Homo sapiens: one gene and its partner. The protein of the gene in region 2 interacts with the protein of the main gene of each other region in a pairwise test. Each region holds a gene or a part of one and is shown on either strand. Other genes may lie near its edges.

The links.
Region 1: the proteins of ZNF619 (region 2) and TULP3 interact in a two-hybrid assay, tested with the Homo sapiens proteins (one large-scale study listed by BioGRID and IntAct).

Annotation. Positions count from the first base shown.
Region 1 is NC_000012.12:2,935,597-2,938,786, reverse strand, and holds part of TULP3 (tubby-related protein 3), read right to left. Parts: intron 1,157-3,190; coding exon 1,058-1,156; intron 674-1,057; coding exon 502-673; intron 1-501. UniProt on the Homo sapiens protein: Negative regulator of the Shh signaling transduction pathway: recruited to primary cilia via association with the IFT complex A (IFT-A) and is required for recruitment of G protein-coupled receptor GPR161 to cilia, a promoter of PKA-dependent basal repression machinery in Shh signaling.
Region 2 is NC_000003.12:40,475,652-40,480,095, forward strand, and holds the start of ZNF619 (zinc finger protein 619), read left to right. Parts: upstream 1-1,470; 5' UTR 1,471-1,706; intron 1,707-2,266; 5' UTR 2,267-2,306; coding exon of another isoform or gene 2,307-2,328; coding exon 2,329-2,352; intron 2,353-4,444. UniProt on the Homo sapiens protein: May be involved in transcriptional regulation.

The DNA of each region.
Region 1 (3,190 bases), on a different chromosome or scaffold from region 2:
TTTTCTGAGACAGGTTCTTGCTGTCACCCAGGCTGGAGAGCAGTGATGCAATCTCAGCTCACTGCAGCCTCGACCTCCTGGCTCAAGTGATGCTCCCACCTCAGCCTCCCGGGTAGCTGGGACTACAAGTGCCTGCCACCACGCCCAGCTAATTTTTCTATTTTTTGTAGAGATGGGGTTTCACACCATGTTGCCCAGGCTGGTCTCAAGCGATCTGCCCACCTCGGCCTCCCAAAGTGCTGGGATTACAGACGTGAGCCATGGTGCCCAGCCAACTTCTCTGATTTGCTATAGCATCTCTCTCACACTCCTCTCCCCTCCTCAACACAGTGATTTACAAGTTTTCTCTAAAACTGTAGTTTCATCTTTCCAAAGAAATCCTGTCTCTCCTCCATGATTATCTGCTGACTGTCACTTCCTATCATGTACAGGGAATGTGCATTCCCATCCTGTAAGAGCATCTGTCCTCCTCTTCCCACCCAACCCCTCCTGGAGGCTTACGGTCATTTTTGTGGACTATCTGGAAGTTCTTCACAGACGCCTGAGTGACCCGGCCACGGAAGTTGAGGACATAGGACTGAGTGTCACTGTTCCAGACGGGGGCCTTGTTGTGCAGCTCAACCAGATTTTCCATAGTTCTGTTCTGCCACCTTGAGAGCAAACTGTCATGGTTCTGTCCAAAGGGAAAATCATTACTTTGTACTGAGAACTCCAACTCTACGAGGTAGAAGGTAGAGTAGGAGAATACTTTCTCCATTTCAGAAAGGGTAAACCAGAAGCGAAGAATGAAAGCCAACAATGAAGACAGGTTTTTTTTAAAATTATTCTACATCATCCAGCATTTCTCTTTGTAGAAAAAATGGTTTCAAGGCAATGACTCTGCAACTGCTCTTATCCTGAGGTTTTGGAGGGGCAGCTTTCCTAAAGAAGTGTATGGAGCTATCTCCAGTGTGGGGCTCTGGAAGCTCAATCTTTTTTTTTTTTTTTGTATTAATCTCTGTGTATTGTACTACTGTCTTTTAGAGTCTTTCACTGATTTAAATACATTCTTACTCACGTTTTGTGGCTGATAGGGGATCTGCTTATGATTCAGTGTCATTCCAGGAATGATCACAGACATTTTCCTAGGACCTTTAAATCCAAGTACGTTTGTTTCCTGGAAGATAGGAAAACAAAGCAGAACTTGGAAACAGGAAAAAAATAGAGACCACATTCTTTTATAACATGAGACTTTCTTGGGAATGTAAGATGCTGACAATATCAGCTGTATCAGCCGGGGCAGTGGATCACGCCTATAATCCCAGCACTTTGGGAGGCCGAGGTGGGCAGATAACCTGAGGTCAGGAGTTTGAGACCAGCCTGGCCAACATGGTGAAACCCTGTCTCTACTAAAAATACAAAAATTAGCCAGGCGTGGTGGCAGGCGCCTGTAATCCCAGCTACTCGGGAGGCTGAGGCAGGAGAATTGCTTGAACCCAGGAGGCAGAGGCTGCAGTGAGCCGAGATCACGCCGTTGCACTCCAGCCTGGGCGACAAGAGTGAGACTCTGCCTCAGAAAAAAAAAAAAAAAAAAAAAAAAAAAAAAATCAGGTGTACCAAAAATAATTTTATTACTTTGCTGTAAACAGAATCAAAAACAGGAAAGTAATATTATATCTCTTTATACTTCTCTTTTTTTTTTTGAGACAGAGTCACGCTCTGTCGCCAGGCTGGAGTGCAGTGGCACAATCTCAGCTCACTGCAACCTCCAATCTCCACCTCCTGGGTTCAAGCGATTCCTGTGCCTCAGCCTGGGACTACAGGCGCATGCCACCACGCCTGGCTAATTATTTTTTGTATTTTTAGTAGAGACGGGGTTTCACCAAGTTGGCTAGGATGGTCTCGATCTCCTGACCTCGTGATCTGCCTGCCTCAGCCTCCCAAAGTGCTGGGATTACAGGCGTGAGCCACTGCACCTGGCCTATACCTTCTTTAAACACCTACATTTAAAACAGAATCTCTTGGCTTGAGAGTTTACTCTTAACTATTTTTTTTTTGGGACCAGAGTTTCACTCTTGTTGCCCAGGCTGGAGTATAATGGCACAATCTCAGCTCACCACAACCTCCGCCTCCCGGGTTCAAGCAATTTTCCTGCCTCAGCCTGAGTAGCTGGGATTATAGGCATGCGCCACCACACCCGGCTAATTTTGTATTTTTTTTTTTTTTTTAGTCGAGACGGGGTTTCTCCATGTTGGTCTCGAATTCCCGACCTCAGGTGATCCGCCCATCTTGGCCTCCCAAGGTGCTGTGACTACAGGAGTGAGCCACCACGCCCGGCCTCTTACTCTTGAGTCTTAAATGTGATTTGAGATAACTGTGAACAAACTGTTCAACTTTGTCAGCACCAACACATATTTATTTCCCAGTGAGGGCATAGCACTATATTACATACAGTGAAAATTAGTTGTGGTTAAATAAGGCCTGCACTAGGTATTAAAAATGCCTGTCAAGCCAAGCAGATTATTCTTATTTTATTTTGAGATGGCGTCTTGCTCTGTCACCCAGGCTGGAGTGCAGTGGCACAATCTTGGCTCATTGCAACCTCTGCCTCCTGGGTTCAAGCGATTCTCCTGCCTCAGCCTCCCGAGTAGCTGGGATTACAGGTGCCTGCCACCACGCCTGGCTAATTTTTTTTGTATTTTTAGTAGAGACGGGTTTTTGCCATGTTGGCCAGGCTGGTCTCCACCTCCTGACTTCAGGTGATCCACCGGCCTCGGCCTCCCAAAGTGCTGGGATTACAGGCGTGAGCCACCACGCCTGGCCGATTATTATTATTTTTTAAACAGGGTCTCATGCTGTCGCCCAGGCTAGAGTGCATGGTGTGATCACGGCTCACTGCAGCCTCGACCCTCCTAAGACTCAGGTGATCCTCTTGCCTCAGTGCCCCCAGTAGCTGGGACTCCAGCGACTGCCACCATGCCCGGCTAATTTTTGTATTTTTAGTAGAGATGGGGTTTCACCATGTTGCCTAGGCTGGTCTCTCCTGGGCTCAAGTGATCTGCCCACCTCAGCCTCCCAAAGTGCTGGGATTACAGGTGTGAGCCACCAAGCCCAGCCAAGCCAAGCAGATTATATATGAAAGCTATAGAGGAAAGACACCTTACATTAAAGTGTGAAGTCAAATGGTTCTCAGGCATGTAGATAAGATCTC
Region 2 (4,444 bases):
AATGTCTGAGTTAAGATAAGGGGTTTTGGAGACCAATGTTCTTATTATGCAGATGAAACCTCCAGGTAGCAGGCTTCAGAGAGAAACGATTGTAAATGTTTCTTACCAGACTTCAAAAGGTGCCAAACTCTTAGTTAATTCTCTACTGGATCAAGGAAAACACTTTGAAAGTGAAGGGGATTCTTTACAGGATGTAGATTTTCTTCACAAAAGACAGCTTTACAGGGTCATTTCAAAATATGTCAAAGAAATACATTTTAGGGTAAAATACTTCAGTTTATTTCAGGGCCTGTTATCTGTCACATGAGACTATACTAGAGTCAGGTTAGAATTTGATGTCTTATTGCTATAAAGAGTTTGTTTTGGGCTGGGCGTGGTGGCTCACGCCTGTAATCCCAGCACTTTGGGAGGCCGAGGCGGGCGATCACGAGGTCTAGTTCAAGACCAGCCTGGTCAACATGGTGAAATCCCGTCTCTACTAAGAATACAAAAATTAGCCGGGCGTGTTGGCACGTTCCTGTAATCCCAGCTACTCAGGAGGCTGAGGCAGGAGAATTGCTTGAACCCGGGAGGCGGAGGTTGCAGTGAGCCGAGATCGGGAAACTGTACTCCAGCCTGGGCTACAGAGTAAGACTCCATCTCGGAAAAAAAAAAAAAAAGTTTTAGTCAGTCTCAAGATCTCTGTTTTAATGTTAATGCTGGTCCGTAGTGCCTGAATTCCAAGGGCATAACGAGGCAAGTCCGATCCCCTGCTTCCCATCATGGCCTGAACTAGATTGCCAGGTTTTCTTTGGAATGTTTTGGCTGAGAGAAGTGGTCCATTCAGTTGGTTGGGGGACTTAGAATTTTATTTTTGGTTTACAAAACTGTTGCATGAATTGACTCAGTTAATTCACTGAATTTATAAATTACAAACTTTTACCATTCTCAACTGATAAATTGAGGCAACGATTTAAGTATAACTTGAGCAAGTCCATATAGAGTGGAGCCAGGAACGCAGACAATGAGACACCATACCCCATGGTCTTAGGTCACAGTCATTCAGTGGGAGACAGGGGCTATAAATTCATTAGAAGGTTAAGTTAGGAATTAAGTAATTAGGTAAGGAATTAGGAATTCAGTTAATTAAGTTACAAATTGTTAAATATGGAGGAATTTATCATGTAGTTGGGGTACTAAGACATAAGAGAAAATAATAAAGAAAAACAGGAGCGGCCGGGCGCGGTGGCTCACGCCTGTATTCCCAGCACTTTGGGAGGCCGAGGCGGGCGGACAGCTTGAGCTCAGGAGTTCGAGAACAGCCTGCGCAACATAGCGAGACCCCCGTTTCAAAAAACACACGAAAAAATTAAAATTAAAAAACAAACAAACCAGGCGCAGAGCGGTTGTGGAGAAGGGAAGCGAAGGGTTGGAGTTTCGTTTCGTGGGAACCATAGAGAAGGGCCAGCCTCCCGGCTTCCTAGAGAGGCTGTAGGGACCGACGGCCGGCCAGCTAATGCTTCCGTCTTGGCCACCTTGCGAGCGCTCGGGTTGAGTTTCCCGGGCTTCCCTGACTCGGCTACCTGTTCTGGAGGTCAGGCTTTGGGCCCTTGCAGAGGTCGCCGAGGGGCCCGCGCCGCCGCCAGAGCCTGGGCCCAGTCCCCAGTCTTCAGAGACGCCCTCGACCTTCCTGCTCCGAGGAGCTGGCCTGATGTCCTCGGGTCGCGGTATTCATGGGGAGGATGGGAGCCGTGACTATAGGGTCTCCTGCTTCCCAGGGTGGAGCGTTCAGATCCCGGTTAGGTCTTCGGTCAGCATCACCCGCTGGGACATTAAGCGTCTTACCCTTGTCACCCGGGGCTGGGTCACCACTTATATTTTGTCCTGCAGCCTGTGGTTTGTTTAGGGGTCCCCGTTATATCCTACTTTCTCTCCAGAGACTTGTTTTGGGTTTTTGCCATGAACACTAGAAGCATTCAATACAAACTGTTTAGTAATGCATTCATAGTGGGGCCAAGAATTTTTTTTAAAAAACAGCCACGAATCCACTGCAGTTCTTGACTCTTACTTTACAGATATTCTTTCTAGAGTTTCCAGTGTCACCAAGCAGATCTATAGGAGAATATGCAGAGGGAGCATTTGCAACATCCCATGAATCAGTGGAGAGGGTGAATGACAGCAGCTAGTGTGCCAAGAATATCTGCAATGCTAGTGGCAGGAGACAGAGGGGAAGAGGCGGCAAGTGTAGGAGACGAGACAGATCAGTCTCATTGTGGTTCTCTCTTAGCTCCGCAGGTTCTTACTTTTTCAAACCTAGAGGGCAGTGCATGAAGCCAGGGGTCATCAGCCATGCTCCAGACAGTGTGGTTCCAGGTGAGCAGAGCTTTCTTTCAGCTTTCCATACTCAGAACAGATATGGAAGGTCAGTACAGCCCCAGTAGCCTGACTTGGCCAGTCTCATGCTTAGTTTTACATCCTTCAATAAAGTATGTAAAAACAGTATGCGAGGGGAGTTGACGAACGAGAGTAGGTGAATTTGGGAGAGTCAGGTAGGTTGGAAAAGAAGGAATGAATTATCCTAGAAAGTGGGAATCTGCATTCATGAGAACTGAAAGTGTGGCCTGGAGATGAGCAGCTTTTGCATTACAGAGGGCTCTTGTTAGGCAAAATGTCAGGCCCCCTCCCCAGATCTCCTAAATCAGAATCTACATTTTTACAAGATCTGGAAAATTAAAGGGCAGATTAAAATTTGAGGAGTGCTAGTCTGCGTTCACAGTACACAAAGAAAAGCCATTTCTGAGGTTAAATAGACACTTCCAAGGGAGGAGTTTACCCTGCAGACCACTCAGTTAAGGTACAGTGAAGCCAGAACTGGAAACATGTGGAAAATGTAGATTGATGAGGGAGATGTATTTTTGGAGGAATGATGAGTTTGGAGCTGAAGCCAGTGCCTTTAGCTCAATGCGAAGACGTCAGTCTAACCTCTGTGAGAGTCTATATCCTTTCTTGGCTACAAATTCATGTAGCATTGGGAGGACTTTTCCCTCCAGTTTTCTTGGTGGTAGATGATGGTTTTACTGGATTTTTCTCCAGTGTCCTAGATCATGGAATGAGAAAGCTGAGTTTATCATGTAATGGATGTATCTTGTAATGAGAAAGCTCCATCCCAAGGACTTAAAAACAATGTGTGTGTCCTTTTGGTGGATATTGGACCATCCACTTCTGTTCGAGAACTTCAGCAAAAATTCATTCCTACAAGTCAGGAAGTGTGCTGTGGGGGTATGCTGTGCTCTCCTGGTGCTTTGCCTGAAGTACAGAAATCACTTAGGATTAGATTCCCCAAAGAGGACCCCAAATGACAGTGGATTAAACGAGGTAAAGGCTTCTCTCTCATACAAAAGTATCAAGAGTCAATACAGGGCTAGTGTGGCAGCTCCCCTATTATGCTCTCAGGCTCTGTCTTTCTGCTCTACCATCCTAGCAGTGTCTCACCTGCTCTAGGCCACTTTATTGTCCAAGGTGGCTGCTTGATCTCTAGCCATCATGTGTGCATTCCAGCTAGAAGAGGAGCTGCCCAAAAAAAGATGAACCTCTCTCTTTTAGGAACCTTCCCATAAGTCCCCAACAATATTTATACTTGCATTTCATTGGCCCCACTTGGTTGCCCGGGTTGAGTGCAACCTCAAGTAAAATTAGGATTCCAATACTAAGAAAGAAAGGGGGTACACACACACCTGTCAGTCTTTGCTACAATCTCTAAGAGGAACATTTGTCATTTAGAATCTTCTAGGAAGTTCCCCCAATCTCATCTGTGGTTGTAGTAAGTGCTGAGATTTAGATGATATCATGTGCCAGGTGATATCTTCGTGCGTTACAGATAATAACTTAATGCCATTCTTGTAAGAGTCCTTTCAGATAATTACTATTGTTATCCCAGTTTTACAAATGGGGGCAACTGAGGCACAGAAAGTTTAATTGTCTCATCCAAAGTTAACAGCTAATGAGTATTAGAGATACTATTTGAACTTAGGGAGTCTAGCTTAGAGCAGGGTTTTTCAACCTTGGCATCATTTACATTTGGGCCAGATAATTCTTTGTTTGGGGGATGTCCTGTTCATTATAGGATATTCAGAAATGGCCCTGGCCCACTATCTACTAGATGCCAGTAGCACTACCATTACCACCACACTGCAGTTCTGACAACTAAAAATGTCTCCAGATATTGCCACATAGTCTCTGGGGGACAGAATTGCCCCCATGTTGAGAGCCATAGCCTTAACATCTGTGCCATTTGCCACTATGTTGTGCTGCCCCTGTAACCCACTTCCTATAGAAGGGAGTCAATAGCCCCACTTAATGGAGAAAGAGTAAGTGCAAGTAAAGGACAGAAGAGTGATCACAGATAGAGAAGATCTGGAGAAGCTAAGTGTTTCAGAAAACAAGGAACCAAAGAATGTGCTGATAA